3 separate regions of the Homo sapiens genome follow, and regions 1 and 3 are each linked to region 2. Evidence: fine-mapped expression QTL. A gene starts in region 2. Each other region holds a variant in brackets. All regions are shown on one strand. Distances are from middle to middle. Region 1 overlaps RSPRY1 (ring finger and SPRY domain containing 1). Region 2 holds the start of RSPRY1 (ring finger and SPRY domain containing 1). Region 3 overlaps PSME3IP1 (proteasome activator subunit 3 interacting protein 1).

Region 1 (8,199 bases), 52 kb after region 2:
CTCAGTACTGTATTTTTGATACAATTTTGGCTTCACAAAATGTAACAGGTTTAATGCTATTTATGAGCTTCCTAGGCACTCTTTTAGTTTTAGAGCTTCCTCATTTACTTCTTATTTACAGTCAACCATTGAGAAGTTAGCAGCCTCCATGTCATCTTACTAAATTTCAGTTGTATGAGATGAACTCAGAGGGCAGCCTGGACCCTATAGAACAGAGTGAGCATCAGCAAGAGAAGCAAGTAAGATGGTCCCCAGGAAGGCTAGCCCAACTAAGTTTAGAAAGGAGAAGAGCAGTTGGGCAATGTGGCGTCCTGGCCAGTCAATGTGTGCCGATTGTTTATGAGCAACACTCAAGTTGATGTTACAAGCCAGCTACCTGTAATTCATCATATCCCATACCCTGCCTTGGTCTTATTTTTGACATAGCTTTAGTCACGTGGCTCCACAGGGGTCCAGAGCCTGGAGTGATGAACCCAGTTTGTCATCCCCAGGAATGACTCAGCCTGGGCCCCTGACTCTGCCTCTCTACGTTTGTTGTCTTTTGAAACGGGTTATCTAATTGGCTGTGCACTTAAGGGAAGTAGAGTGTGTCTCATTTCACCCTTAGCTATACCAGCCTCTCTTCTGAAAGAAAGGCACAGTGATTCCAGCTGTGATTAATCCTCCCTATTACTTCTACAGCCCAGAATTTCTCAGTTTGAGCATATTTGGAGGGTTTAGTTATCAGGGCCTCACAGACAGATGCAGAGTTTAAAGGTTGGATATCTTCATGCCCTTTTTGATCTTTGTTTCTGTAAGAATGTTAAGATCTCAAACAGCTGGATCTGGTCTTAATCATCTTTGAGCTCTCTGGTCCTGTGGTCTTGCACATAATACAAGGGGTCATTAATGAGTGCTGAAATATAAAACTTTAGAACTAGGTATCTTAAGTATGATCATAGTCTCCATAGTAGATATATATCCAAAATAGAGTTGGAAGAGGACATTAAAAGAATTATAAGAAAATTTAGCTAAACTTTGAGCAGCAACAACAATTTTAAAAGGGATATAGGGACAAAGAAAGGAAACCTGGATAAAATGAATTACAAGAGTCAATCCCCAGAGGAGACTGAAAATCTAAGCATTCCTGTTACCATAAAAGAAGTTAAAATGGTTATCAAAGCTACCTTTGCCTTCTCTTCCACAAGTACTAAGGCTAGTTTCACAGGTGAACTCTTTACAACTTTCAGGGAATAGGTAGCCCAATTCTATTTAAACTTGGCCAAACCATAGAGAAAGTAGGAAAACCACAATGTTATTTTTAGTAATCATACCAAAAGCTGATAAAACTCATAAAAAGAAAAAACTATTTTTTTATGAATATAAATCTAAAACTCCCAAATAAAATATTAGAAAGTAAGACCTAGCAACGCAACTGGCAGGGGGAGTTATCTTAGGAATGCAAGGATGGTACAATTACAGAAATCTTAGGCTGGGCACGGTGGCTCACACCTGTAATCCCAGCACTTTGGGAGGCCAAGGCGGGTGGATCACAAGGCCAGGAGTTTGAGACCAGCCTGGCCAAGACAGTGAAACCCCGTCTCTACTACAAATACAAAAAAAATTACCCGGGCGTGGTGGTGGGCGCCTGTAATCCCAGCTACTCAGGAGGCTGAGACAAAGAATTGCTTAAACCTGGGAGGTGGAGGTTGCAGTGAGCAGAGATCGTGCCACTGCACTCCAGCCCAGGCAAAGGCAGGTTTTTTTGAGATGGAGTCTTGCTCTGTCGTCCAGGCTGGAGTACAGTGGTGTGATCTCAGCTCACTGCAGCCTCTGCCTCCTGGGTTCATGCAATTCTCCTGCCTCAGCCTCCCGAGTAGCTTGGATTACAGGCGCATGCCACCAGGCCCAGCTAATTTTTGTATTTTTAGTAGAGACGGGGTTTCACCATGTTGGCCAGGCTGGCTCGAACTCCTGACCTAAAGTAATCCACCTGCCTTGGCCTCCGAAAAGTTCTGGGATTACAGGCATGAGTCACCATGCCCAGCCTACAATATAGAAATCTTTAATATAATTACTCAAATAGGCCAGAGGCAGGAGAGGGGCAGTTATCACTTCAAGAATGCTGAGAAAGCATTTGTTAAAATTCAATATCCATTCCTAATGGATGAAATACTACAAAACAGAAATGAATGGACTAAAACAATATAAAATAGGAATGGATGGATACTTCCATAACAATACAAAAAACACATATATTTCAGCCAAATGCTAGTATCTCTTTATTTTTTTATTTTTATTTATTTATTTATTTTTATTTATTTATTTATTTTTTGAGACGGAGTCTCGCTCTGTCACCCAGGCTTGAGTGCAGTGGCGTGATCTCAGCTCACTGCAACCTCCGCCTCCCGAGCTCAAGTGATTTCTCCTGCCTCAGCCTCCCAAGTAGCTGGGATTACCAGTGCCCGCCACCATGCCCAGCTAATTTTTGTATTTTTAGTAGAGACGGGGTTTCACCAGCTAGCATCTTTTTAATGGTGACACATAGGAAGCATTTCAAGAGATGTTGGGAATAAGATAAGGATGCCTACTGTCACCACTATGACTTACAAAATACACAAAAATCAGTAGCTCTTCTAGCTATATGTATAATAGCAGCCAGTTAGAACATATAATTGAAGATCCCTTTTACCATGGTTAAAAAAAAAAGTGCTATCTAAGAATACATAGCAAGAAATATGTAGAGCGTATATGAAGAAAACTTTTAAACTACCAAAGAGTATAACAGAAGACTTAAATAAATGAGTCTCTTCTTGGATAGGAGGACCTCTCAGTATTGTAAAGGTGACAGTTTTCTCTAAACTCTAAGTTTAATTTGCTCAACATAAAAAGAGCAACATGATTTTTTTCTGGAACTTGACATGCTGATTTAAAAGTTTAAGGCAAGAAAATTCTGAAAGTTAGGGAGATGACAACCATACCACATCTTAAAATACATTAAAATAAATGTTAATAGTTTGGTCCCATTACTATATGACAAGAATGGCAGAATAATGGAATACAATAAAAGCCCAGAAATAGAACTAACTAAAAATGAAAATTTACCATATGACAAAGGCATTGTGTCAAAACTGTGGTGAAAGATGGACTGTTTGGTAAATGATTCTGGGATAAATGGCTAGCTTTCTGGGGAGAAATATTATATCCCTACCTATAAGTGCACATCTGTAAGTATATGCTGTGCACATATAGAGTGTCTGAAAGAATGCATATGAACTTTTTACTTGTTCCACAGACTAAGACAATTGAGGATCAGAAATGTAAGATTTACTTTTTATTTACATATTCATTTTTTTTAAACCATGTATAATTAGTAACCCTTTCAATGAACAAACTTGTTAACATTTTTGATTTAGTTGGCAGGCAGTTGGAGTTTGACCTTTTGAAGCATTAACTTGACTGACTTTTCTGTGTTTCTCCCCAGTGACCTGTGCATGGATTGTGCCTTGCAGCTGGAGACCTGCCCATTGTGTCGTAAAGAAATAGTATCTAGAATCAGACAGATTTCTCATATTTCATGACACATGTGAAGAGGCATCGTGGACTTTTTTCTACTCAATTCCAGCCAATGTTGAAAAGAAAAAGAAAAAAAAA[ACT/A]CTCTAATCAGTTGTACACACATTGAAACTTATAGCCATGGCCAGATTTTATGCTAAAAATGGTAGTTTGTCAAAGACAAAATTCTCTTAGAATCTAATCCAACTTGCCAGCCCTGAGAAAATCCCTTTTAAGGCCAAGGAAAGCTGAATGCTAGCAGCCAGGCCTGTGGTACTTCCATGAGAAACCATAGCAGACAATGCCCTCCCAAGTACTGAAATCACACTGGAATCCCCCTTGTTGGGTTCATTTGATTGTTTAACACAGGATGTGTTGTGTCATTCTGAAGTTTTTATTTGGGGCAGAAGTCTTTATGGAGATGTAAATGACAGCGTTTCTGGGTTATGCATAACTTCTCACTGGTCAGAGACACCGGTGTGTCAAGCATGGATATTGCATTGCAAGACTTGAATCTATAAAAATTAGAATCACACAGTCAGTACTACAAGCAAAACAGAGAACCTGAAAGAAGGTGCACAGACTGTAAGAAAAAACCCAAGTTTGTGATATTTCAGTGATTCCAAAGAACATTCTAGGTTTTTTGTTTGTTTTTTTGTTTTTTGGGTTTTTTTTTTTTACTGCAGAAAATTGGTGGTATTTTCACATTCATAGTGTTTCTATCCAATTTCAGTACCCACATTTAATGAGGAAAAAATGTTTTACCAATGAAGGAGGAATTCTTAAATTAGCTGTAATGTTAGGTTGGAGAAAATTTGGTATTTAGGGTATTTTCAAGGTACCATCAAATCAGATTTCTGTTTTTTTGTTAAAAAAAATTTTTTTAATCAGTATTGTTTTTACAAGTAATATACTTTGAAACTCTTGAACTAATAGTCTCAAAAACTCTAGAGGACAGTCTGAGAACACGTATTTCTATTGTTCTAAATAAATACATGTTTTTGAATAGTTCAATCATGAATTATTGACTATGTCTTCATCAAAAGTGTTAATCCCTCTCAGGGTCTCTGGTGAAGACCTTCAAGAGTTTGGTTTTTTCTCCCAGGAAATTGGAAGGTAGAATTGTAAATTCATAGAACTTCTTTTATAATGGTGTACCTCAGCAGCTGCCTTTCAATTTATGCCAAGTCCTTACAGAGTTTATACTTGAATAGTAAATATGTCTTCTGAGTTTTACAGTGTCTTAAACTCAATGCACATTTTTTTTTCTTCTTTTTCCACCCCTTCTTGTTTGTAGTTCATTATACCTGTCCTATTACAGAACTGATTTCCTTCCTGGCTGTACATGTTGGGGTGCTGGATTTTTTTCCGTGTCTTTAGTCTTCCATAAATCCACACACACACACACACACAAAAAATATATATATATATAAATATATATGTAGGATACATGTTCTCTTCTTTAGCTTGTGGTGAATACAGTAATTTGCATTGAAGAATAAAACATCTGTTGCCTTTTTTGACTAAGATTTCACAACTTTCATTGGTGTATACTGCTAAGGTTCCAAGACATTATACTCTCAGACTTTAAGGGCTACTTTTGGGAGTAGGAGAGAATCAAGTATTAGAATTAAGAATAAGGCCACTTACTCATCCAGCAGATTGTTATTGAGCACCTAATATGTGCTGGGCACTGTGCCTATGTGGCATACAAAATATGCTTGTAGAGCTTATGTCTAATAAGCTTGTCTAATTATTGTCTATTATTATGTCTAACAGTAATTTGGAAGTGGTCCAGCTGAGACTAAAGGTAGTCTGTACATTTAGTAGAGAGAGGGAAAAATAGATGGAATTAATAGATAATTTGCGAGGCAAAGGAATGCAGGAGCCTAACAGCTTTCTAAAAATCTACCCTTGAAGTTTGTTCCTAAGGTGGGGAGAAGACAATATATTTGTGTTTATTGTAACAGATTTTTAGTGGAAAAGAATAGGGTCCTAGAGAGAATGAGGGGGACCTAATTTAGATGGTGGTGGGAGTGTCAGAAGAAACCTCACTGGGGAAGTAACATTAGTGAAACTTAAAGGAGGAAGTAGGACATAGCCTGGCAGAGACTGAGGACTAGCTTCTAGGACTGGGTAGCTAGGCGAACACAACATTTTAGGCAAAGGCACTAACTGAGGAAGAATGGGTCTCAGTGGGTTTGGGGATCCGATGGAAGGCCCCTGTAACTGGAAAAATAGGAAGCAAGTAGGTAGAATAGGTAATGCTACAGTGTTGGAGAGGCCAGGGAACTGCTCATGAAGGCTATGTGAAGGATTTTCTGTTTTATACTAAGTGCAGTAGAAGGCAAAGGTGTTTAAGCATGGAAGTGCCTTGATAATTCTAACAGATGGCTCTGGCTTCTATTTGGAGAATGGAATGGAGGAGTGGGGTGGGCTGGGGGTAAAGGACAAGCAAAAAAATGGAAATAGACCAGTAAAGAAATGTGTGGTCCAGCTGAAACTAAAGGTAGTCTGTACATTTAGTGGAGAGAAGGAAAAATAGATGGAATTAATAATTTGCCAGGCAAAGGAATGCAGGAGTGTAACAGCTTTCTAAAAATCTACCCTTGAACTTTGTTCCTAGGGTGGTTTACGTTTCCTGTTCTTAAGTTCTAGATCATAAAACAAAAGGGCTTCAATATTAAATTGATCAAATCATCCAGGATGGAAGCTAAATTGTAAACTTGGAGCCACCTCAAAGGGAAAGACAGGAACTCCCTATCAAAGAAAAAACTAGGGGTTAGCAAGCTATGTGGAAGCGTAAAGTCGTACATCCATATTCTGAACTGAATGTAAGCATTTAAGAGAAATTAAAAGCTAGACTTTTACTACTGATAAATTGTTACCAGGGAGAAAAACAAAAAATTATGGTATTTTGTCAGGTGATTCACTGGGGAAATCCAGCATTTCAGCCAAAAAAGTTTTTTAATGAATTTGCCCCTTTTTAAAATAACATAGAGCAGAAGAAAGTCATGGTGCCATTTGCAGAGTGCCAGGAAACTGATTCAGTCACAAAACTGACACAATTTCACTGGCAGAAAATGACTTTTGCACAAGTTTCAACCATCTTGAATGTGTATCCATGAAAACAAACCATCCACCTAAGATCAGCTCTTTCCAATATTGCCCATCATTTACCTTTTGCTATTTATTCACTCAGAAGAATTCCTAGTGCCAACCCCCAATCAAAGGATTTTAAAAATGAGTATTAATGGAAAAACATTTAGTGTATTCAAGTCAATTTTTAGTTTTGCTACAAGTGGAAAAAGGCCATTCTGTATTCAGGAGAAAACGTTCTGATTTCCAAGAATATGGTTTAACAACCCAGGGATTAGGGGCTATATAGCATGATGGTTGAAATAGGCCCTTTGGAGTGGGACTGGACCCAGGTCCCACTAATGCTTGGTTTCCCAGTCTGTAAAATGGAGATACTACCCACCTCATACCGGTTTTTTGTTTTTGTAAGGTCTCAAATATTTCAAAAGGAGACAATGTATTTATAAATGTTTAGCACACTATCTGATACATCCTTGAGTGGGTACTTTTTATCTTTATCCCCATTTGTTCCTAGAGTCAGTAAGGTTGGTGAAATGGATTAAAAGATGGCCACAAATTATTTGACATCCCTCCCGTCAAGAAATGAGGTTTATGTCTACTTTCCTTAAATTTGGGTGGCTCTGGGTCTGCTTGATCAGTGGAACACAGTGGAAGGGCTATTGTGCCAGTTTCCAGTACCAGGTCTTTAAGTGACTGCCAGCTTACATTTCAGTGTCTTGAAACACTTGCTCTTGGACCCAGCACCATGGTGTGAGAAAACCCAAGAATCCCCTGAATCCTATAGATGGAGAGGAACTGAAACCCCCCAAACCCCGGCCCCAGTTCTCTGGCCAATGTCCACAACTGAGAGCCAAGAGCCAACACTAATTTGCCAGCCATGTGAGTAAACTCCTTGGAGGAAGCTCCTCTAGTCCATTCCAGCTGCCCCCAGCCGACACCAACTGGAATAGAGACTAGCTGGCCCTGCCCAAATTACAGATTAGTGAGCAAAATGGTGGTTTTAAGCCACTAAATTTTCAGGTGGTTTGTAACAGCAATAGATAACCAGAACAGATTAAATCAAGGTGTGTTCCTCCTCCACTCCATCAATGACTTAGGAAGGGTAGGCAAATTCATTTTGTCCAGAAATGTGTGGTATATAGAGAAAGTAGGTCATGAAGAAACTCTCTGAGTTTGCTGTAAGCTGTGTGACCAGGGCTTGACTAAACAACTCAGTCCAGTAATTCAGCAAATCTTTTTAAATGCCTATCTTCCACTTGGTGCTAAACAGAGTAACTCATAATTGATGTCACCTGACCGGGTGCGGTGGCTCACGCCTGTAATCCCAACACTTTGGGAGGCCGAGGCGGGCAGACCACCAGAGGTCAGGAGTTCGAGACCACGCTGGCCAACATGGTGAAGCCCTGTCTCTACTAAAAATACAAAAATTAGCCGGGTGTGGTGGCACGCGCCTGTAATCCCAGCTACTTAGGAGGCTGAGGCAGGAGAATCCCTTAAACCCGGGAGGCAGAGATTGCAGTGAGCCGAGATTGCGCCACTGCACTCCAGCCTGGGCAACAGAGCAAGACT
Region 2 (8,280 bases):
TCAGAAAGGAAGACTAGAATAAGCATTGGGGAAGCTTAATTTTCATAATGGCTGTGACGATGCACAGTGAAAAGTGGTGGAAATTTTAGGTATATGAAGAATAACCATCTTTAACTTGGAAATCACACAAATTTCACATTCCAAATTTCAGAATACAGGGGGATTTTCATTTCTTGAAATAGTGGGCTAGGTAATTGAAACCAATTCTCCACCTCTGCACTAAATATGCTGGAAATTTGTCAAAAATAATTTTTTTTTTGAGATAGGGTCTCGCTCTGTCACACAGACTAGAGTGCAGTGGCATGATCTCAGCTCATTGCAACCTCCACCTCCCAGGTTCAAGCGATTCTCCTACCTCTGCCTCCCGAATAGCTGGGATTGCAGGTGCCCGCCACCATGACTGGCTAATTTTTGTATTTTTAGTAGAGACAGGGTTTCACCATGTTGGCCAGGCTGGTCTCAAACTCCTGACCTCAAGTGATCTGCCCACCTCGACCTACCAAAGTGCTGGGATTACAAGTGTAAGCTACCACGCCCAGCCAAAAATATTAATTCTTAAATAGAAAAGCTAACAAGATAGTAAAGAATTTGGACACAATCTAGAAGGTGAAAACCAGAAATTAAGCCCAATATTCAAAATGGATTTCATCCTGAGGACTTCTCTGACCTAAAAGCTAAAGTTTCAGTGCCTTTATGAGATAACAGAAACAAGTTCAAGCCAGGAGCCCATCCAGGGAGTGGAGTCTGACAACTACCTCCCTCTCCATCTTAATCTTGTGCCCAAAAGAACTACAGCTTCAAAGTAAAGGTGAACTGGGAAGTAAAACAGCAGGAATAATGGACAACAGAAACAGACTCCCCCAAAGGGAATTCAGACAGTGGAATTAAACATAGAGATTATAAAAACAACTATACTTTCCATGTTTAAAGAAATAAAATTAAGCCTCAAAATAGTAAGAAATAAAAAACTGTAAAAGTGTCACAAACCAAACAGAACTTCAGAAACTAAAAATTGCAATATATGATTTAAGATTTCAGAGGCCGAGTTTAATAACAATGGAAATAACTTGAGAATAAATTATCCAGAATGTACTACGAAAGAACAGAGTAAAAGACATAGAGAAAAGAGTGAAAAGGTTTAGTTAAATCGATAAAAAAAAAAAGAGAAACAATGGGAAGAAGCAATATATGCATATAAAATGGCTGAGAATTTTACAGAATTAATGAAAGACACTAATCCACAGATTCAAGAAGTCTAATAAATACCAAACAAATTGAACAAAAACAAACCCATAGTTCCATAGAGCATAGTGGAAATACAGAAAACCAAACACAAAACAATCTTTTTTTTAAACTTGTCGATACTTGATTTTAGACAAAACAATCTTAACAACATATTCTATAGTAAAGAGTGAAACATAATATTTAAGAATGAAGACAAAGTATGTTCAAAAGGTGACTAATGGTGAACACGTTGAAAATGCTTAATTTAGCTGCCATAAAGGCATAATTACACTATGACTGACCCTGTACGTACATCGCACTTGTTACTTGATTTACCACATACGTGGTTTTCAATAGCTAAAGCAGCAGCTTGATTCTAACCAAGCATCACCATTCTTGGAAGATGAAAGTGAAGACTGATAATCAACTAAATGGTTTTGACACAATTATTCCTTTCTTATATCATGAAGCACTTCCCCACAGGGTAAGGACATGAAGACTTCAGTTGAGAAAGATAATCGGGCAGCCTCTACTTTCAGATCCTTACAAATTGTTCGCAGGTCATCTAACTAAAAGACTGTAAAAGCTGCTGTCGGCTCAATACTTTGTATCAAAAAGGAGTCTACCCACTGATTCCCTTCAAATATTTCAGAAGGGTGCCTTCCATTTTATGGTGTCCCTGTGGACACATGAATACACCAAATAACTGATGAATCGACAAATCTTATGTCACAGGTGGTAGGCAAGAGGTCATCGGGAATTCCGATCACCAGGCTCGCATCTGGCTTCTTGGGTCCCACTCCTGAACTAACCAGTCGGGCTACCCGAGCGTGCGGGAGTCTGAGAAACTGCATTTTAAAAGGGCCCCAGGAGATCTTGTTTTCCACTAACATTAAAGAACCACGACTACGAACAAACAGGTCTCCCCCTTTCCTCTGTGTGGACTGACAGTCACAAGGACCACCAACTCTCAAGCATGACGCTTCAACTCTCTTTGTTTCTTAAGTTTTCTGCAAAACGGGCCAGCTGGCTTGTTTTCCGTAATAGAAAATTCGCTTGGCACAGCAACTGGTACATGGCACACAATAAATGTGCTTCCCATCCTGCACTGCCATTCTGGGATTCAACCATTTCCAACCAGACGCCGCACATCCGAGTGAGTAACCTGGACCTGTTCCAAGACCTCTGGAACGGAGCCTGCTACTCACTTGAAACCTGGGTGGCCCTACCTAGCAGAAAATTGGGGAAACCCCATTAAACGCCCGGCAGTGTTGGGCCCGCCTGAAAGGGTCCTCGCCGCGACCCAGATGCCTTCCCGCGGGCACCCTCAGCTCCCCTCAGGCTGGGCCCGCAAGCCCCAGGCTTCGGCTACTCCGGACAAGGAGCGGGTGCGCGGACTGAGAACAGGCCTGGCCCTAACCCTAACAGCAGCCGCAGCTCATCTCTTCCGTAAGGAAGCTGGAACCCAGGTGTCGCCGCCAGGCCAGGACCGAGGCCGCACTCACCTACCGGCGCGCGGGAGGCGAGACGACCTCACCTCGGCGGCGCCCACCCCAAACCGCCACCGCAGAGCCGCTCGCTCTTAAAAAAGAAAAAAAAATGAAAGGAAGAAAGAAAGAAACAGAGGAAGGAATGAATGAAAGAAAGAAAAAAAAAAAGAAAATAGCCTTTGCTTTTGTATTTCTTTTGACCCTTCAGGGCTTCCTGTTCCTCACCGCCACAATAGAGTCCCGCCCCACTTCCGGCGACGTAACCCAATCCGCGGAGCTCTTCCTCCCCGGGAGCCCGATGGAAATCCGGTACCCTGAAAACGAGCCGGAGAGACTTGATTGGGCCATTCACGCCTCAGGATGAGGACTGGCCAGTCTGCGCCTGGAGGGCGGGCCGGTCCCGCTGATCACGTGACACGATTTTTGAAAGGTGATTGGCTGTCAAGGAGAGGGCTTGCCACCGAGGAAGGGGCGTTTCCTAGGGGACTGAGGGAGGGCTGGGGCGGTACGAAGCGGGGGTGGGCTCTGCGCGTAATGGCAGCGCCGTGGCCTCGCGTCCATCTTTGCCGTTCTCTCGGACCTGTCACAAAGGAGTCGCGCCGCCGCCGCCGCCCCCTCCCTCCGGTGGGCCCGGGAGGTAGAGAAAGTCAGTGCCACAGCCCGACCGCGCTGCTCTGAGCCCTGGGCACGCGGAACGGGAGGGAGTCTGAGGGTTGGGGACGTCTGTGAGGGAGGGGAACAGCCGCTCGAGCCTGGGGCGGGCGGACCGGACTGGGGCCGGGGTAGGCTCTGGAAAGGGCCCGGGAGAGAGGTGGCGTTGGTCAGAACCTGAGAAACAGCCGAGAGGTTTTCCACCGAGGCCCGCGCTTGAGGGATCTGAAGAGGTTCCTAGAAGAGGGTGTTCCCTCTTTCGGGGGTCCTCACCAGAAGAGGTTCTTGGGGGTCGCCCTTCTGAGGAGGCTGCGGCTAACAGGGCCCAGGTGAGAGGCAGCTATCTATCTCCTGGGGTGGCTCCTGGTACCGATGGGGTCCTGACCTACTCAGGGGTGCCCGGGATAGAAAGGGTAGATGAAGGGACGCTTTAGGAGGGTTCTTTTTGTGGAGTTTACGGTCTAGGTGGCACGGATGAGGCATACCTCCCCGGGGAGATTTAGAAACGCCTTGGGATAGAGAGAGAATGGGGCTAGGAAGCAGGAGCTAGAACTAGCGGAATGTCCTACTACGGAAGCCGGAGCTGAAAATTGGGTAAGGACCTTGGGGAGAGGGGATTTCTGGGCGGTGATGGGAAGAAGACACCTCCATCCACAGGAAAGCCAGAGTGGGGAGTAGTGAAAGGGAAACGGGAATTATTCCCTCTCTCTGTAGATCGACCAGGTGTCCCAGACACAGGATCCAACTGCTTCCGGGCTTATTGCCCGAGTGGGGTGGGGAGAGTCTATCCCACCAACACCCCTTGCGTGAGTCCAAATTAGGCATTTGTCTCTCCTGCTGCCTCACTTTCCCCGTCTTTGGGGAGGGAAACCGACTGAGACCGAGGCGGTCGGCTGAGACTCCGAGGTCCTGTCTTGTATAGTTCTCTGAGAGAGGTTGCTCCCCCTGGAGTGTTGTACTTTGAACTTTGAAGGGTTAGAAGTGTCTGTTATCGACTGAGTAGAATCCCGCAGTTTTCCAGGCCCTTTACCTACCATCTGTTCTTGCTTAGTGGAGTGACTTAACCTCCTTAAGTCTCTACTGTAAAATAACCAGCGCAGTATGTGAAAGTACAAATTACAAGCTGCGTGAACGTAAGTTAGTGTGATTCTACCACCAAACGGGTTGCTGTTGAGGAATAAAAGTGAAGGCACTTTCTAAAATGTAAAGTAGTATGTAGAGGTAAGGGGTGGGATTAATACAGTCGTTGTCTGTCACCTGCGGAGTGCTGGGAGCCATATTGTACTGAAAGCTTCAAGGTTCACAGCTTCTTAGGTCATATTAAGATCTAAACCCATGGTTTCAAACCCTGCTTAGATGGGGATGGTGGGATTTCCAGCTTTTGCTCTCAGAGTTTTCATTTACTTTGAACTTCTTATGGTGCTGGCAGGAGTTACCACTGTAATATCTTTTCCTTCAGGAATTATTTTCCCCTAACAGCTGAAATTTTCCTCTAAGTAATTTGATCTCAACATTGTAAACCTCCTCCCCCTTTTGCATATATATATGCATGGCTTTTGGATGTCTACAGGCAGTGAATATCATACTTTCTCCCTCAGTTGTGATTTGTAAAGACTGCCTTTTTTCCTCCACGAATACTATGCGTTGTTGTGGTAGCCCTAGACTATAGATTATGAGGCATGTTGGAAGTTGCTTTTAAATTTCTCTTGCACAGTGGTTCTCTTTATTTTTCCCCTTATGTGGACTTTGCATTTCCTGGGATGGTATCTTGCTTTGTAGATCCCTCTATGAGATTGTAAGAGACTTGTGTCCCTGTATGACATTTTACTAGTGTTTGGTTCGTCGTACTTGTTAGAGATGGTTTTCCAAATATCGGGCAATCATTTCCTGGGATGGTATCTTGCTTTGTAGATCCCTCTATGAGATTGTAAGAGACTTGTGTCCCTGTATGACATTTTACTAGTGTTTGGTTCGTCGTACTTGTTAGAGATGGTTTTCCAAATATCGGGCAATTTATATGGGATTTTTTCCGAAGTAATTTAGTTGTGTTTTTGGTTTTTTTGTTTGTTTGTTTTTTGAGACGGAGTTTCGTTCTTGTTGCCCAGGCTGGAGTGCAGTGGCGCTATCTCGGCTCACTGCAACCTCCGCCTCCTGGGTTCAAGCGATTCTCCTGCCTCAGCCTCCGGAGTAGCTGGGATTACAGGCATGTACCACCACGCCCAGCTAATTTTGTATTTTTAGTAGAGACGAGGTTTCTCCGTGTTGGTCAGGCTGGTGTCGAACTCCCGACGTCCTGTAATCCGCCTGCCTCGGCCTCCCAAAGTGCCGGGATTACAGGCGTGAGCCACTGTGTCTGCCTTTCGAAGTAATTTTTGTACTGCTCTGAATTTTCTGTTTTTGTGATCCTATATTCTGTGGATCTTTTTAAAAACTATAACTGGTGATTGTGAGTTATTTGATCTCCCAGGATGCATGTTGCCCTAACCTACTATTTAATGTCTTTCTATGTTATGCTTTTTTCTGTACTCAGTGACTTTTTTTTTTTTTTTTTTTTGAGACCGAGATTCCCTCTTGTTCCTCAGGCTGGAGTGCAATGGCGCGATCTCAGCTCACTGCAACCTCTGCCTCCCGGGTTCAAGCAATTCTTCTGCCTCAGCCTCCCAAGTAACTGGGATTACAGGCAAGCACCACCCGTGCCTGGCTAATTTTTGTATTTTTAGTAGAGAGGGAGTTTCACCGTGTTGGTCAGGCTGGTCTTGAACTCCTGAGCTCAAAGTGATCTGCCCACCTTGGCCTCCCAAAGTGCTGGGATTACAGGCATGAGCTACTGTGCCTGGCCCTCAGTGATTATTTTCAAGTTATTGATTATAGGAGGTATACCAGCATACTCTATGTGGGCTTCTGCTTTTGTCAGCAAAATAACTTTTCATTTAGTAAGTATCAAAGGGAAATAAAAACTTAGCATTTTGTATAATAGTGTGTTAATCTGTAGTGAATCAGGTAAAAACAACAAATCTGAGTTATGTAGCACTGTGGGGCCTGGAGGCTAAAAAAAAAAAAAGTGTGTTTTGTCAAGAGTTTAACAAACAATTATTCTGTATTTCTTTTTTTCTGTTTTTTCTTTTTCTTTTCTTTTCTTTTTTTTTTTTTTTTGAGACAGGGTCTCATGCTGTCTCTCAGGCTAGAGTGCAGTGGTGCAATCACGGCTCACAGAAGCCTCTACCTCCCAGGCTCAGGTGATCCTCCCACATCAGCCTCCCAAGTAACTGGGACTACAGGTGCGAGCCACCACACCTGGCCAATTTTTGCACTTTTTTTAAGACAGGGTTACGCCATGTTGCCCAGGCTGGTCTCAAACTCCTGGGCACAAGCCATCCACCCACCTTGGCCTCCCAAGGTGCTAGGATTACAGGTGTGAGCCACCATGCCTGGCCTCGTGAGCTTAATTTAGTCTGTTGAGAATTGTATATGCTTTCCTTAACAATGAAGTAATTTGTTCTAATGAAGTGGGAAATCCCTTTGCATCTTTTTAAATACAGCTTTCTTTCACACTCTATATAGTTTGGAGAAAATGTTAGGAATTCTTGAAGGTAGTAATCACTATTACACTACTTAAGATTGGAAGTTATGGCTGGGCATGGTGGCTCACACCTATAATCACAACACTTTGGGCGGCCAAGGCGGGAGGATCACTTGAGCCCAGGAGTTCAAGACCAGCCTGGGCAACATGGCAAAACCCCATCTCTACAAAAAAATACAAAAATTAGCCCAGCGTGGTGGCACATGCAGATAGTCCCAGCTACTTGGGAGGCTGAGGTGGTAGAATCTCTTGAGCCTGGGAGGTTGAAGATGCAGTGAGCCACTGCATTCCAGCCTGGGTGACAGAGCAACACCCTGTCTCAAATAAATAAATAGGAAATGTTCTGTATTTTTTAGTAGGATACTTGTAAAGTGGGGTGTGATAGTCTCAGGATTGCAAAATAAGTGGAAAGTCAGTAGTCACCACAAATGGGAAACACAGTGGAACCAGCAATCTATTTCAAAAGAATTATTTGGGGATAATAAACTATGGATTTAGCTTCTCTTCAAGCTTTTGGCATTTTCAAGGCAGTTATCATTGAATTTGGGTAGTTTTTTCCCTGATATTCAAATTAGAAAATTGAAAAGCAGAATAATCACGAAGTAGTAAATGCCGTAACTTGGGCAACAGCCTTTTGGAGGGGACTTTTACAACTTTTAGAAGTGCAAAGGAGTGAATATTTCCCTTTGGTTTATCATTCAGTAAGTCAGCTTTTGAAATCCTTTTCTTGCCAACCTTTGTGAGTAGAGAAAACATACAAATGTGTCCATTCCAAAAGGGAGTGGTTGCTGGTTAAATATGTAAAAGTAGTAACTTTAGATAAATGTGTGGTATATACAAGGTTAAATCAGGAAAAGTTATCTTATAAATAGTGGTGGCCTCTTAGAGAACATTCCGCTTTGTTTCTGAGCTTTTGAAAACTGAGAATACATTTGAAATAGTAAGGAATTTATGTACTCCTTAAATTTGTTAAGGAATGAACTCTGCACATAGCTTTCTTGTTGCTTGAAATTATAGTTTCCAGGCGTAATTTCATAGGTCCTATGTACCTCAAATAGAAGGTTTGAAATACCTTACTCAGCAAGTATATTACCTCATAGTTTAATGTTCAGTGTTAGTTTTTTCTTACCCCTCTACCTCCTGAAGAATTGTTTTCGCTCTTGTGTTCCCTTAATGCAGTGATTCTCAAGATGTGGTTTCTGCCCAGTCCCTCCACATGGGAAATATAGCACTGTTTGTTTGTTTTTTTAAGTTTTTATTGCTTCATAGTTGTTCATACTTAGGTATGCCTAAGGGCTACTTATTAATAACCTACCAAGTGAATTACTAAGGATT
Region 3 (8,000 bases), 28 kb before region 2:
CACCTCAATGACAAAGACCTCAATCTAGACAATGCAGGGCTTGGCTGGGCATGGTGGCTTATGCGTATAATCCTGGCACTTTGGGAGGCTGAGATAGGAGGACCACTTGAGGTCAGGAGTTTAAGACCAGCCTGGGAAACATAGTGAGGCCCTATCTCTACGAGAAAATGTTTTGAAAAATTAGACAGTGCCAAGTGAGGTGGCTCATGCCTGTAATCCCACACTTTGGGAGGCCAAGTTGGGTGGATCACTTGAGGTCAGGAGGTCAAGACCACCCAAGGTGGGTGGATCACTTGAGGTCAGGAGTTCACTGGCCAACACAGTGAAATCCCATCTCTACTAAAAGTACAAAAAATTAGCTGGGTGTGGTGACGCGTGCCTGTAATCCCAGTTACTAGGGAGACTGAGGGAGGAGAATAGCTTGAATCCAGGAGGAGGCAGTGGTTGCAGTGAGTTGAGATCGCGCTACTGCACTCCAGCCTGGGCAACAGAGCAAGACACTGCCTCAAAAAAAAACAAAAAAACTAGTCGGGTATAGTGGTGCATGCCTGTGGTCCCAGCTACTTGTGAGGCTAATGTGAGGATTGCTTGAGCCCAGGAGTTCAAGGTTACAGTGAGCTATGATGGCACCACTGTACTCCAGCCTGGGCAACAGAGCAAGACCCTGTCTCAAAAAACAAACACACAAACAAACAAACAAAACAAAGAAAGAAAGAAGGAGGAGGAAGAAAAGAAAATGCAGGACTTGAAGATGAAAGGAAAAGTTAAGAACTCTACTCCAGCCCTTCCATTCTTCCCTGAAATGTTTCCGGCCTTATTTAATCACTACAACTTGATGTATAGGCATTATCCCCATTTTACTGATGAGGAAAGTCAAATGACTTGGCAAGGTTGTAGGTTGCTTAGGGCAGAAAATGTGAAACTAAACGTGAATCAAAAGAGAACATACGAAAATGATAACCTGAGCTCACTGCAGAGTAAGGGTTGGAGTTCATACTTTGTTGCCACAGGCTGACAAGCATACTACCTTCTAGGGTTTTGCCTTAGATGCACTAACACCTCATTTACCCAGACACCTCAAGTAAATGTGAAAAGAATACACAGTTCCAAGTATAGGAAACCAGGAGTAAGCAAACAATACCACTGAGCAGTTAGAAGAGATATCAAACGGCCCGCACACAAAGTTCAGGAGATCAATGTATTTGCTTGTTTGTGCAAGAAGCTCTAAGAAGGGAAAAGGAAGTTGCCAAAGATAAGCAATGTTAAAACACGGAGATGGAGAAAAGTCAAATGAAAGCCGACAGTGGCTACAGAGATAGAGCAAGGCTACAAAAAAAAGGCAGGAGCAAATACTTGTACTATCATAAAAGCAAATTTCCTTAAGATACTAAGAGTTCTTCCAAATCTGTTAAAAAAACAACCAACAACCAAATAGAAAAGTGAATGGAAAACATGAACAACTCAAAGAAAAAGAAACAGATGAATTTTAAACATAACGGGATAAACAATATATTAGGAGGGAACATGTTAGGAACAGCAAACTTCATTTGCTGTTCAGGGAGTACAGAGAAATTTGGCAAAGTTCTTCGAACTTAAATGATGTTCATAAGAGAACATTCATTGCAGCACTGTTTATAGTAGCAAAAGAGTACTGACAACCAAAATGTCCATTAATAGATGACTAGTTAAGTAATGGACTACTATTCAACCATGAAGAAGAATAAAGTAGCTGAGCATAATGGCTCATGCCTGTAATCCCAGCACTTTGGGAGGCCAAGGCAGGAGGATCATTTGAGCCCAGGAGTTTGAGAACAGCCTGAACAACACAGGGAGACTCTGTCTCTACAAAAAATTTAAAAAATTAGCCGGGTGTGGTGGTGCACACTTGTAGTCCCAGCTACTCAGGAGGCTGAGGTAGGTAGGAGGACCACTTGAACTGGCGAAGCTGAGGCTGCAGTGAGCCATGATCGCACCACAGAACTCCAAACTGGGTGACAGAGCGAGAACCTATCTCCAAAAAAAAAAAAAAAAAAAGAAGAAGAAGAAGAAGAAGAAAGCATCTCTGTGTGTACTGTTATTGAATGATCCCCAAGATATTGTGCTAAATGAAAAAGGCAAGGAGCAGGACAGTGTGTGAAAGTTACAATCTGGGGCAAAGTGGCCATGCCCATGTAGATGCATGTCAGTGTCTGAGAACAATAAATAAAAACTGGTAGCAGAGGCTGCTCAGGGGAAAGGAAATGAGTGGCTGGAAAATGGGGGAGACTTACTTTTTACTCCACATTCTTTTGTCCCTTTTGAATTTTTCCTTTTCTTTTTTTTCTTTTTTTTTTTTAAGAACATAAGGCTCACTATGCTGCCCAGGTTAAACTCCTGGGCTCAAGTGATGTTCCCGCCTCAGCCTCCCAGAGGGCTGGGATTACAGGCATGAGCCACCTAGCCTGGCCTAAATGTTTTATTATGTGCATATATTACCAATTCAGACAGTTTTTTAAAATGCAGCTGTGCTTGGGTAGACAATTTTTTAAAAAAGCAAATACAAAAATTCAAAGAACATCCTGAGCCCTTAAACTAGGGAGGAATAGTCCCATTTATCTCTGTAACCCCAAGAGCATCCCAGTATTAAAGCTAAGAAGGCTGTAGAAGATGAGAGGGGTTGCTTGTGTGTATTCTCCACTAACGGTAAGCCCCTTGAAGGCAAGCATTCTTTTATCACCATTCCACCCCCAGGACATATAGCACAGGGCCTGGCTCAGAGCAGGCTTGCATTCACAAGGGTCAGAAATCAGAATGCAGGAAAATGTGTCAGACAGTTTACAGTTTCATTGCAAATGGCTAATTTGGGGGGAAGGGGTATAAAAATGTGATGCTCTTTTAACATTTGGAACATAACATCAAACTATACCATTCATGACTTAAAAATACATTGTAGTACTTATGTATACCAGATAGAATGATATTTTCAGCATTCTGTTAGAAAAATTTGGTTGTTTAAAAAAAACAAACCAGCCAGGCGTGGTGGCTCACGCCTGTAATCCCAACACTTTGGGAGACTGGGGCGGGTGGACCACCTGAAGTCAGGGGTTCGAGACCAGCCTGGCCAACACAGGGAAACCTTGTCTCTACTAAAAATACAAAAATTAGCCAGGCGTGGTGGCACACCCCTGTAATCCCAGCTACTTGGGTGGCTGAGGCAGAAGAATCGCTTGAGCCTGGGAGGTGAAGGTTGCTGTGAGCCGGGATCGCACCACCCCACTCCAGCCTGGGTGACAGAGCTAGACTGTCTCAAAATAAAAAAACAAACCAACAAA[G/GA]AAAAAAAACCTTAAAAGGATATATAGATCAGTTACCTAGAAAACTAATTTATGTGAAATTGTTGAATGAGGTATTTCATTTTATCAAGTACAGACACCCCTGCTTAATGATGGGAATATGACCTAAGAAATGCATCATTAGACAATTCCATTGTTGTGAACATCATAGAATACTTATACAACCTAGATGGTATAGCCTACTACACATGTAGGCCACATGGTATATAGCCTATTGCTCCTAGGCTACAAACCTGTACAGCATGTTACTGTATGAATACTGTAGGCAGCTGTAATACAATGGTCAGTATTTGTGTATCTAAACATAGCTAAGCATAGAAAAAGGCATAGTAAAAATACGATATTATGATCTTATGGGACCACCATCATATATGCACCCATCATTGACCAAAATGGCGTTATGTGGCACATGACCATATTTCAAGGGCGAATGGAATTTAAAGTTCTATTTTACATAGAAAAGAAGGATGAAAGTCAGAGTGCCTGTGGGGGTAGAGAACTGGCCTAACGGAAGAATGGAAGTTAGCTACAGAAATATAATCAAGGAATCTGGACCACTGTGGTATCAGAAGAGTTTAAGTGAAGAGACCAAATACCCCAATTATCTAGGAGGTTTCAAGAAAGAAAAGAGATTGCAAATCTGACAAATTTCATTCCAAAAGCAGTTAACTGTCCAAAGAGAACAAAATGGTGCCCTCTGATCTCACCCATTTGGTGAAGTTTCCTGCCAACTTCTGCATTTGCAGGACCACATTGTCATACCAAATTAACACAGAAAATTACTAATAGAGAATGTTCTTAGTATTCAGACAGATGCGTGACTTGGGAGTAGATGGGGCCAACTTGTGCATTCACTGGCTCTGCTCAGTGCTTAAGTTCAAAATCTTCGCTGGGGGAAGCCTGAATTTCTATCAGAGTCATAGGGGCCCAAGACGGAAATCCTCCCACTGCTAAGGACAGGGCTGAAGCAAGCTTCAGGGAGCGTTCTTCTTGTGGAGCCTTAATTCCTAGCAAAGGAGGACACTTCCTGCCTGGTTTCTGTTGCAAGAATGCAGGAGTAGGAAGAAGGGATTTAGAATGACAAAAAGATGGCTCTGAAACACAGCTGTCTGCCTGAGATAGTTCAAAGAATCCACACAAGTTTTCCTTTCCACTGATTCATTTGTATAGTTCCTACCAGGAAATAAGTACCATATAAAGAGCGACTAGCTTACTTGTAGAAATACATTTAAGATTCCTATGCCAAGAGCATTTAACCCCAGCTACTCAGGAGGCTCACGTGGGGGATTACCTGAGCCTGGGAGTTTGTGGTTGTAGTGTGCCATGACTGCACCTGTGAATAGTCACTGCACTACAGCCTAAGCAACAAAGTGAGATCCTATCTCTAAAAAAAAATTAATTAAAAGAAAAATATTCCCTTTGGGAGGCCGAGGCGGGTGGATCATGAGGTCAGGAGATCGAGACCATCCTGGCTAACAAGGTGAAACCCCGTCTCTACTAAAAATACAAAAAATTAGCCGGGCGCGGTGGCGGGCGCCTGTAGTCCCAGCTACTCGGGAGGCTGAGGCAGGAGAATGGCGTGAACCCGGGAAGCGGAGCTTGCAGTGAGCCGAGATTGCGCCACTGCAGTCCGCAGTCCGGCCTGGGCGACAGAGCGAGACTCCGTCTCAAAAAAAAAAAAAAAGAAAAATATTCCTATGAAGCTTTATGTGTGTGTGTGTATACACATATACAGTATACATTTATCCTATTTAAGCAAATTTCCTATTTATTAAAAAGATGTCAGTGAAAAATTCCAAAATTGCTGATGGGAGTATAAATTGGGATAACTTATTTGAAGGGCAATTTGGCAATATTTACCTAAATTACAAATGTATATCCTCTCTGACCTATCAAGTCTACTTCAAAGTATTTAACCTGATAGATCTGTGCATGTGAAAAATTATGCATGTGCAGGATTATTACTGAAACATCAGAACAGGGAAAGAATGAAACAATCTAAGTGTTCATCAATTAAAAAGTAGGATAAATGATATACCCATGCAATATACAATACTACACAGCCTTAAAAAGGAACGAGGAAGTGCTCTATGTCCAGTTATGCAATGATTCCCAAGGTACAATAACTGCTGAATTAAGCAATGAACAGAGTAGGTTAGATTAAAATACTACTAACAATGAAAGTATGAAAACAGTATATAATGTATTCTTGCCGAAAAAACCAACTTGATCAACCTTCCAGATCAAACTACCATTTTACAGGAAACACAAGGTAGCAGGAAACAGCATGGGGATGCAATCAGTAAAATCTAGAGCCAGAGAAATGCTAAAGAACAAAGACCCAGTTTCTCCACAAATAAAATACAAAGAAAACAAAATATAAATTTAGAAAGGAAGAACTTACAGATTAAATTCAAATTAAAAGGTATATTAGCCTACTGCTAAGATGGCAACATTGCCAAATTAATCTACAGATTCCAACAATTCCTGTATCAAAATCGTAACTGCCTTTTCTGCAAAAACTGACAAGCTGATCCCAAAATTCATATGGAAATTCGAGACTCCAAATAGCCAAAACAATCTTGAAAAAGAGGAGCCAAGTTGGAAGACTCACACTTCCCAATTTTAAAACTTACTCCAAAGCTATAGTGATCAAGACTGTGTGCTAATGGCATACAGATAGACATATATAGCTCAGTGGAAGAAGAGAGTCCAGAAATAAACCCACACATTTATGGTCAACTGATTTTTAAAAAATATAAACCACTGAGTCGTATCCTTTTAAAGGGTGAATTTTATGGTATGTGAATTATACCTCAATACTTTTTTAAAAAAAAGCCATAGTAGCCAAATATAATGTCTGGTCCTTGCTAAGATCATAATTTTTTTTTTTTTTTTTTTTGAGACGGAGTCTCCCTCTGTCACCCAGGCTGGAGTGCAGTGGCGTGATCTCTGCTCACTGCAAGCTCCACCTCCTGGGTTCAATGCCATTCTCCTGCCTCAGCCTCCCGAGTAGCTGGGACTACAGGCATCCGCCAGCACACCCAGCTAATTTTTTGTATTTTTAGTAGAGACGGGGTTTCACCGTGTTAGCCAGGATGGTCTTGATCTCCTGACCTCGTGATTCACCCGCCTCGGCTCCCAAAGTGCTGGGATTACAGGTGGGAGTCACCGCGCCCGGCCAAGATCATAATTTTTAAAAAGAAAAAACTTTTTTGAGACAATTGGAGAAAATACTAACTTAATATTCGATAATATTTGGTAATTACTGTGATTATTATTATTATTATTTTTGAGACAGAGTCTCGCTCTTGTTGCCCAGGCTGGAGAGCAATGGTGCAATCTCGGCTCACCGCAACCTCTGCCTCCCAGGTTCAAACGATTCTTCCGCCTCAGCCTCCTGAGGAGCTGGGATTACAGGCATAGCCAGCAGCCCGACTAATTTTGTATTTTTAGTAGAGACAGGGTTTCTCCATGTTGGTCAGGCTGGTCACAAACTCCCAACCTCAGGTGATCTGCCTGCCTCAGCCTCCCAAAGTGTTGGGATTATAGGCATGAGCCACTGCGCCTGGCCTGTGATTATTAATATAATGGTACTGTAATTGTTAAAACAAAGAAACAAAATAAGAACTTGTATTTGCTAGAGACATATATTAAGAATTATGAATGAAATGATATAATGTCTGGAATTGTCACAAAATATTACAGTTGAGAGATATAAATGAAATAAAATTGGCTATGTGTTAAAAACTGCTGACTGGGTGTGGTGGCTCACACCTGTAATCCCAGCACTTTGGGAGGCCGAGGCAGGTGGATCACTTGAGGCTAGGAGTTCGAGACCAGCCTGGCCAACATGGCGAAATCCCGTCTCTACTAAAAATACAAAAATTAGCTGGGCGTGGTGGCACATGCCTGTAGTCCTAGCTACCTGGGTGGTTGAGGCATGAAAATTGCTTAAACCAGGAAGGCAGAGGCTGCAATGAGCCAAGATAACCCCACTACACTCTATCTTGGGTGATAGAGCAAGACCCTGTCTCAAAAAAAAAAAAAAAAAAAATTGTTGACGGTCTTTCCTGTAGGAGATACCTTACAAAGAAAAAAAAAAAATCAGTGAAGCTTGGTAATGGGGGTTTATTATACTTATTCCAACTTCTGAATATTGCTTAAATTATCCATAATAAAGCATTTAAAAGATACATATTTACAATTGCTTGCACATGCATAGAATAGCTCTTGATGGCTACATAAGAAATGTGGCTGGGCTTGGTGGCTCACTCCTGTAATCCCAGCACTTTGGGAGGCCGAGGCAGGCAGATCACTTGAGGTCAGGAGTGCAAGACCAGCCTGGCCAACATGGTGAAATCCTGTCTCTACTAAAAATACAAAAATTAGCCAGGTGTGGTGGCGCACGCCTGTAATCCCAAATACTCGGGAGGGTGAGGCAGGAGAATTACTTGAGCCCAGGAGGCGGAGGTTGCAGTGAGCTGAGATTGAGCCACTGCACTCCAGCCTGGGTGACAGAGTGAGACTCCATCTCAAAAAAAAGAAAAAAAAAAGTATAATTCTGTTTCCCTCTAAGGAGAACTAGATGGAAGAGATACGGGTAAAAGGCAGGCTCCTTTTTTTTTCCCCCAGACTCTTCTTTTTAAAAGTAGGTTCTAGACCAAAAGG

What was found.
Region 1: its variant is fine-mapped to the expression of RSPRY1 in whole blood (INTERVAL, PIP above 0.99).
Region 3: its variant is fine-mapped to the expression of RSPRY1 in whole blood (INTERVAL, PIP 0.92).

The regions. Positions count from the first base shown.
Region 1 is chr16:57,235,416-57,243,614 of GRCh38, forward strand. RSPRY1 (ring finger and SPRY domain containing 1) reads left to right here. Exons shown (of 15, transcript NM_133368.3): 15 at 3,464-5,054. The coding sequence ends at 3,560. Among named protein-coding and RNA genes, the nearest start is that of ARL2BP, 5.7 kb to the right of the region's middle. RefSeq lists an enhancer at 48-177. The variant ACT/A (reference allele first, on the strand shown) is at 3,634.
Region 2 is chr16:57,183,092-57,191,371 of GRCh38, forward strand. RSPRY1 (ring finger and SPRY domain containing 1) reads left to right here and starts at 3,238. Exons shown (of 15, transcript NM_133368.3): 1 at 3,238-3,360. It overlaps PSME3IP1 (proteasome activator subunit 3 interacting protein 1), which reads right to left and starts at 2,948. Exons shown (of 7, transcript NM_024946.4): 1 at 2,730-2,948. RefSeq lists enhancers at 2,573-2,622, 3,934-4,578 and a silencer at 3,323-3,532.
Region 3 is chr16:57,155,299-57,163,298 of GRCh38, forward strand. The region is part of intron 6 of PSME3IP1 (proteasome activator subunit 3 interacting protein 1); the gene reads right to left. Among named protein-coding and RNA genes, the nearest start is that of PSME3IP1, 27 kb to the right of the region's middle. The variant G/GA (reference allele first, on the strand shown) is at 3,312.